Homo sapiens: one gene and its partner. The gene in region 2 interacts genetically with the main gene of each other region. Each region holds a gene or a part of one and is shown on either strand. Other genes may lie near its edges. The genes, in order: NF2 and HECTD1.

Region 1 (3,824 bases), on a different chromosome or scaffold from region 2:
CCTGACCTCGTGATCTGCCCACCTTGGCTTCCCAAAGTGCTGGGATTACAGGCATGAGCCACTGCACCCAGCCTCTTTTCTTTTTTTTAAGAGACAGGGTCTCACTCTGTCACCCTGGCTGAAGCACTGTGGCACAATCATAGCTCACTGCCTCCTCAACCTCCTGGGATCAAGTGATCCTCACACCTTAACCTCCTGAGTAGCTGGGACTCCAGGCTCACACCACCACGCCTAGCTGAGTTTAGATATAGTATGTATATTTTAGAGTTGGGGTCTCTCTATGTTGCCCAGGTTGGTCTCAAGCTCCTGGCCTCAAAGGATCCTCCTGCCTTGACCTCCCAAAGTGCTGAGATTACAGGCAACAGCCACTGTGCCCAGGTCTCTCTCTCTCTCTCTCTCTCTAATTATTTATTTATTTTTTAAGGGTATACTATCCTACCCAAACTTATATTTTTAAATTCCATTAGACTCATATTACCAAGCATATAAACAAATCACACATAACACGAAATAGAAAAAAACATTAAGACTTCCTTTGCTTTTGGAAAACAACTGAGAAACAACAAAATTCTTTTCAGAAATACAGAAAAAAATTGTTTTTATAGTGTAGCTAATATGCCCTCCTTAGACATTAAGACACTTTTCTGTTTGTACCCTTAATGCAGCCATATTTTTACTCTTTATAAAAATCAAGGCTCTCAATAAAAACAGTATCTCACTCACTAATCATTAAATTGCATCACTGAAAATGTAGTTATACACACCAATTTCTAACTTCTTAGAATACTCTGCACAATCAATTATAATCACTGAAACGAATAACTGCTCAAAAACGCAGAATGGCTTCAACTACACTATGATTTGGTAGTCAATATTCCTGTTTTCCAGTAAAAAGGAGATTTCATAAACAAACATTGGGCTCCTTAAGGTTTCATCAATCAAGAGAATCTTTCTGAGCAGCTTCTGAGCAAATGTTTCTTAACAGGCTGATCACAGATCTAGGGTCTTCACTCCTCACCATAGCACTGCCAGACACAATCATGTTAGCTTCGCCTCTGCACACCTATGGACAGTGTCAGGATCTATTCCACCAGCGACCTCTATAGCCAAAGATGGGAACTGGATCCTCAACCAGTGAACCTTTAACATCATATCTTCCATGAATTTATGCCCTCCAAACCCTGGTTCCACTGTCATAACCAAGGTCATACCTAGTTGATTAGCCCATGGTGCCAAATACTGAACTGAGGTTCCTGGTTTTATGGCAAGGCCAACCTTCATCCCATTCTCCTGAATGTCTTTAATCAAAGCCCCTGGGTTCTCAGTTTCCTCGAGATGAAAGATGTACTGATTGGCTCCTCTTATAGCCATTGGCTTTACCCACTGTTCTGGCTTGGACACCATCACATGCATGTTCATCCATTACATTCCGGTGGAGATAATCGACCCCAGAGTCTAGCATCCAGAGGCACTGGGCCCCTAAATTGGCCAGGTAGCATTGAGGATGGACAGGCCAATCTTGCAGCCCGATGCCATACTACTGGTTCCCAAGGGCAAGTTACCCCACGAGTCCCCTCAATTACTAATTTAATATCTTTACTTGTTATAGGTCTATTCAGATAGTGTCTCTTCTTGGGTCAATTTTGGTGGTTTATATCTTTCTAGGAGTTTGTCCATTTTATTGAAGTTATCTAATTACTTGGCATTCAACTGCCATTTTACTTTTTTTTGTATGTGTTTCACATCTTTTTTTTTTTTTTCAGGGCAGGGATGGAGTCTCGCTCTGTCACCCAGGTTGGAGGGCAGTGGCACGATCTCTGCTCACTACAACCTCCGCCTCCCGGGTTCAAGCAATTCTCCCGCCTCAACCTCCCAAGTAGCTGGGGTTACAGGCACCCGCCATCATGCCCAACTAAATTTTTGTATTTTTGTAGAGATGGGGTTTCACCATGTTGGCCAGGCTGGTCTTGAACTCCTGACCTCAGGTGATCCACCCACCTCAGCCTCCCAGAGTACTCCCAAAGCCACTGTGCGGTGGCTGAGGCAGGAGAATCGCTTGAACCAGGGAGGCAGAGGTTGCAGTGAGCCGAGATTGCCCCACTGCACTCCAGCCTAGGCAACAGAGCGAGACTCTGTCTCAAAAAGAAAAAAAAAATTAACGAATTCTTTCTTCACCCAGTTCAAATCTGTTATTGAGTCCTGAGTCCCTCTAGTTAATTTTTAAATTTGTTATTGTACTTTTTTTTTTTTTTTTTTTTTTTTTGAGACAGAGTCTTGCTCTGTTGCCCAGGCTGGTGTGCAGTGGCTCGATCTTGGCTCACTGCAACCTCCGCCTCCCAGGTTCAAGGAATTCTCCTGCCTCAGCCTCCCGCGTAGCTGGGACTACAGGTGCCGGCCACCACGCCTGGCTAATTTTTGTATTTTTAGCAGAGACGGGGTTTTACCATGTTGGTCAGGCTGGTCTCGAACTCCCGACCTCAGGTGATCCGCCCGCCTCAGCCTCCCAAAGTGCTGGGATTACAGGTGTGAGCCACCGCGCCCAGCTGTTATTGTACTTTCAACTCCAGAATTTTCATTTGATTCTTTTTTTATAATTTCTATATCTTTATGGATATTCTTTAATTGATGCAACAGTGTCATACCATCCTTTACTTCTTTGTCATCATATTTTCCTTTAGTATTGTGAATATATATAGTACTGTGAATATATATATAGGCCAGTTTGAAGCCTTTTTCATTAATTTGGCCCCTTGTCTCACAGGCAGTTGCTGCTGCCAGCTTTTTTCCAGTGTATGTGTCATATTTTCCTGTTTCTTTGTACGTCTCACAATTTCTTGTTGGAAACTGGACATTTTAGATAATATACTGTAGCAACTCTGGGGATTGGTACCCCCTCTCCAGGGCCAATTGTTATTTATTTGTTTAGCGACTGGCTGGATTATTTGAGTGAAATCCATTTCCCCTGAAAAGTGTTAAGGCCTATGATATTGCTCTTCAGGGAGGTGCAGCTTTGGGTATGCTCACAGTCACCCTGGGATGACAGTGGTTTTGGTAGGGTTCTCTTCTATTCTCTCCTTGACCACACCCAGCTATGAAGCTCCACTAATTGTGGCATATTGTTCTATTATTTTCAACAACACACTGAGGCATAACTTGCTCTTACTCTACAAACTGATACAATCAAATTGTGGCTGTTTGGAGGAAAGCATTTTTTTCCACCTCTGCCACATACCTTACTTTTCAAATTGTTTTTTATTGATTCATAATAGTTGTACACATGTTGGGGGTACCTGTAGTATTTCGATACATTAATATACAATGTATAATGATACAACCAGGACAGGAGGGACATCCACCACCTCAGAGGTCTGTGGTCAATGTTTTGTTTTGTGACAGGACAGAGCTTCACTGTCACCCAGGCTGGAGTGCAGTGGCGTGATCTTGGCTCACTGCAACTTCCACCTCCCAGTTCACGTGATTTTCCTGCTTCAGCCTCCCAAGTAGCTGGGATTACAAGTGTATGCCCCCATGCCCAGCTAATTTTTGTATTTTTAGTAGAGATGGGGTTCACCATATTGGTCAAGCTGGTCTCAAACTCCCGACCTCAGATGATCTGCCTGCCTCAGCCTCCCAAAGTGCTGGGATTACAGGCGTGAGCCACCATGCTGCGGTCAATGTTTGATCCTTCTTCTGATCCTAGAATGGCTTCTTCCAGCTGTCTTATTCCCCAATTCTTTCCAGCAAACCAGGAGGCCTACAGTCTAGGCTGCATCTCCATTAAATCCGCAGATCTCCCAGTTGCCTCTTACCAAAACCTTCACATC
Region 2 (3,824 bases):
CCCTCAAAATTAAGTGACATCATTATTTTTTAAATAAAGCCTACTAGCACCTAAAAGCATCTTCTGAGATGCTCAATTTCCAGAGGACATAACTTTCAAATTATATTCAGATTTAGTAGCAAGATCTAGAAATGCCCATAATACATATTTATAACATTAATACATATGATGATCACCTATTTTGATGTGAATACAAAATGCTCATTAGCTAATAACTCATATTACTATTACTTACTTTTTTTTTTTTTTTTGGAGGCACGGTCTCACTCTGTCACCGAGGCTGGAGTGCAATGGCACAATCTTGGTTCACTGCAACCTCCGGCTCCCAGGTTCAAGAGATTCTCCTGCCTCAGCCTCCCAAGTAGCTGGGATTACAGGCACATGCCACAGTGCTCAGCTAAATTTTGTATTTTTAGTTGAGATGGGGTTTCACCATGTTTGCCAGGCTGGTCTTGAACTCCTGACCTCAAGTGATCTGCCCACTTCAGCCTCCCAAAGTGCTGGGATTACAGGCATGAGCCACCGCACCCGGCCATGTTTACATTACTACATTTTAGAACTCGATACATCAGGTAAAAGCAAAAACGAATCTTGAACGTGTTTTACTTTCTGGAGCATTACCTTGATAAGTTCAGGCATTAATAAGAAGCACTGACACATCATAGAAGAAGTTATATTCGTTGAACTTCAGAAAGACACTGTCAAAATGGGTACAAACAGTGGAGAGCCGGCCGGGCGCGGTGGCTCACGCCTGTAATTCCGGCACTTTGGGAGGCTGAGATGGGTGGATCACAAGGTCAGGAGATTGAGACCATCCTGGCTAACACAGTGAAACCTCGTTTCTACTAAAAATACAAAAATTAGCTGGGCATGGCTAAAATAGCACTGCGCTCCAGCCTGGGTGACAGAGCGAGACTCTGCCTCAAAAAAAAAAAAAAAAAAAAGTGGAGAGCCATGTACAATACTAAGTTAAAGGAAAAAGAAATCCTTGACTATTATCCCATTTATTTTCAGAAAAATCCTGCAAGGATGAGGAAACAGACTTCAAAGGCTATCACACAACTATTCAGTGGAAAAGGCAGGTATCTGAACCCAAGTCTATCCCATTGCAGAGGCCACTGTTTCTACCACACCACCTGCCTTTCCTGACTAAACAGATGTGAAACTATTAAGACAAGCTAATTAAGCAAACATATTATCAGGACATACAGGCATGTTTTGGTTTATTAGACAGAACTAAGTCCTATTTGCTACTACTTTATGAAATCAAGGTAGTATGAAAGATTTTTACCAATATTCAAAATATGCACATCATCTTGCTTTTTTTGCCTGCTGGGAGTTGATTGTTTAAAAGAATTTTAAAAGACCTTTCCAAATCAATCACTTTATTCATGGAATAAAGTGCTAAAATAAAATTCAAAATTAGATATTTATTAATGATGGCATCAGTGGGTAGCCCACTTTACTCAAAACACTTAACATACATTCTCTCCTTTAATCCTCACAAGAAGGCCCACTGGAAAAAAGACTACTGGCTGGGCATGGTGGCTCACACCTGTAACCCCAGCACTTTGGGAGGCTAAGGCAGGTGGATCAGGAGATCAAGAGATGGAGACCATCCTGGTCAACATGGTGAAACCCCATCTCTACTAAAAATACAAAAATTAGCCAGGTATGGTGGCACGCACCTGTTGTCCCAGCTACTCGGGAGGCTGAAGCAGGAGAATCACTTGAACCTGGGAGGCGGAGGTTGCAGTGAACCAAGATCGCACCACTGCACTCCAGCCTGGGCAACAGAGCAAGACTTCATATGAAAAAACAGAAAAGAAAAAAAGACTACTGCCATTTTACAGGGGAAGAAAGTAAGGCTCTCAGAGGCTAATGAACACAACAGACCAAGAATCTGAACCCAAGTCTCTGATGCCACAGCCCATTCTTTCCATCTCACTATGCCTCCCTCACTAGTTTCAAGAAGGAACCAGGACAATTTTCCCTTGTAACAACAAGAAAATCTGGCTATAGAATGAAAAGCAAACTAATGTTTAAAAACAAAACAGTCACAAAATTAAACCAAATGTCTAGTTTTTGGAGGTTACTGGTACACTACCCCAAACACGGCTAACCCCTTCAACTTGAAATACTCTTGTATCTTCATATAGTAAATCATATCTGACTTAACTTTAGGTTCATTTCCTTAAAATTACATTATAAAGCCAGGTGTGGTGGCACAGCCTATAGTCCCAGCTACTGAAGAGGCCGAGGCAGGAGAATCGCTTGAACCCAGGAGCTCGAGGCCAGACTGGGCAACATAGTGAGGCCCCAGTCTCTTAAAAATTACATCATACTATATATGAATAAAGCCTAGAAAGGAAAATGGAAAAAATAACAGCTGTTATGTTAGGATGGAAGGATTTTACATAGAGATAAATTTTATGTTTTAAAAATTTCATTTAAATTGTTTTAACATGGCAACACTTTTTTTTTTTATTATACTTTAAGTTTTAGGGTACATGTGCTCAACGTGCAGGTTTGTTACATATGTATACATGTGCCATATTGGTGTGCTGCACCCATTAACTTGTCATTTACATTAGGTATATCTCCTAATGCTATCCCTCCCCCCTCCCCCTACCCCACAACAGCCCCCGGTGTGTGATGTTCCCCTTCCTGTGTCCAAGTGTTCTCATTGTTCAATTCCCACCTATGAGTGAGAACATGCATTTGGTGTTTTGTCCTTGCGATAGCTTGCTGAGAATGATGGTTTCCAGCTCCATCCATGTCCCTACAAAGGACATGAACTCATCATTTTTTATGGCTGCATAGTATTCCATGGTGTATATGTGCCACGTTTGCTTAATCCAGTCTATCATCGATCGACATTTGGGTTGGTTCCAAGTCTTTGCTATTGTGAATAGTGACACAATAAACATACGTGTGCATGTGTCTTTATAGCAGCATGATTATTATAATCCTTTGGGTATATACCCAGTAATGGGATTGCTGGGTCAAACGGTATTTCTAGTTCTAGATCCTTGAGGAATCGCCACACTGTTTTCCACAATGGTTGAACTAGTTTACAGTCAGTCCCACCAACAGTGTAAAAGTGTTCCTATTTCTCCACATCCTCTCCAGCACCTGTTGTTTCCTGACTTTTTAATGATCGGGCAACACTTTTTTAAATGTCATAACAAATACTTCTACTACATATTAGTACTAAACAGAAGCTACGAAATGACAATTGACTTGACTGACAAGTATGATTTTTAAAATACCAAAAGTAACTTTCAGGTTACCTCTAATGAAATCTATGAACGCAATTTTTAACTTGAGAGTCAGGATGAGGAAAAAAATAAAAAATAAAAATAAATTTTAAAAAATCTACTTTACTATAAATCCTGCTAAAACAAGTGTCAACTAAGGGCTAAGTTATTCTTACATACTCAAAATTCTGCCAATGACAAAAACTAATGGAAATAAATGGACCACTAACTAATTGTAATTTGGAAATTTTATTAGTAAGGATTTTTATCTTAGTACTGTTTTAACAAGAGTTACAACTGAAAGTTATTCAATAATCAAAAATGAAGGTACTTTAAAAATTTTGCCAACTGAGTAATATAAACTTTATTCCCACCTAAAACACATTAGGATAATTATACCAAATTTTTTAGGTCAACATCTCAAACATTTTCTACTAATTACCTTAAAATAGCATTAAAATGAATAAAGAAACATCAGAGTTTTCAATTACTTATTACTGGAGTTCAAAACTGTAAATACAAATGTAAAATAAACAGTAAAAACGAAACACATGTTCAACACTC

What was found.
Region 1: changes in HECTD1 (region 2) and NF2 together harm fitness more than expected from each alone (negative genetic interaction), as found in Homo sapiens cells (one large-scale study listed by BioGRID).

The regions. Positions count from the first base shown.
Region 1 is NC_000022.11:29,606,612-29,610,435, reverse strand, and holds part of NF2 (merlin), read right to left. Parts: intron 1-3,824. UniProt on the Homo sapiens protein: Probable regulator of the Hippo/SWH (Sav/Wts/Hpo) signaling pathway, a signaling pathway that plays a pivotal role in tumor suppression by restricting proliferation and promoting apoptosis.
Region 2 is NC_000014.9:31,201,276-31,205,099, forward strand, and holds part of HECTD1 (E3 ubiquitin-protein ligase HECTD1), read right to left. Parts: intron 1-3,824. UniProt on the Homo sapiens protein: E3 ubiquitin-protein ligase which accepts ubiquitin from an E2 ubiquitin-conjugating enzyme in the form of a thioester and then directly transfers the ubiquitin to targeted substrates.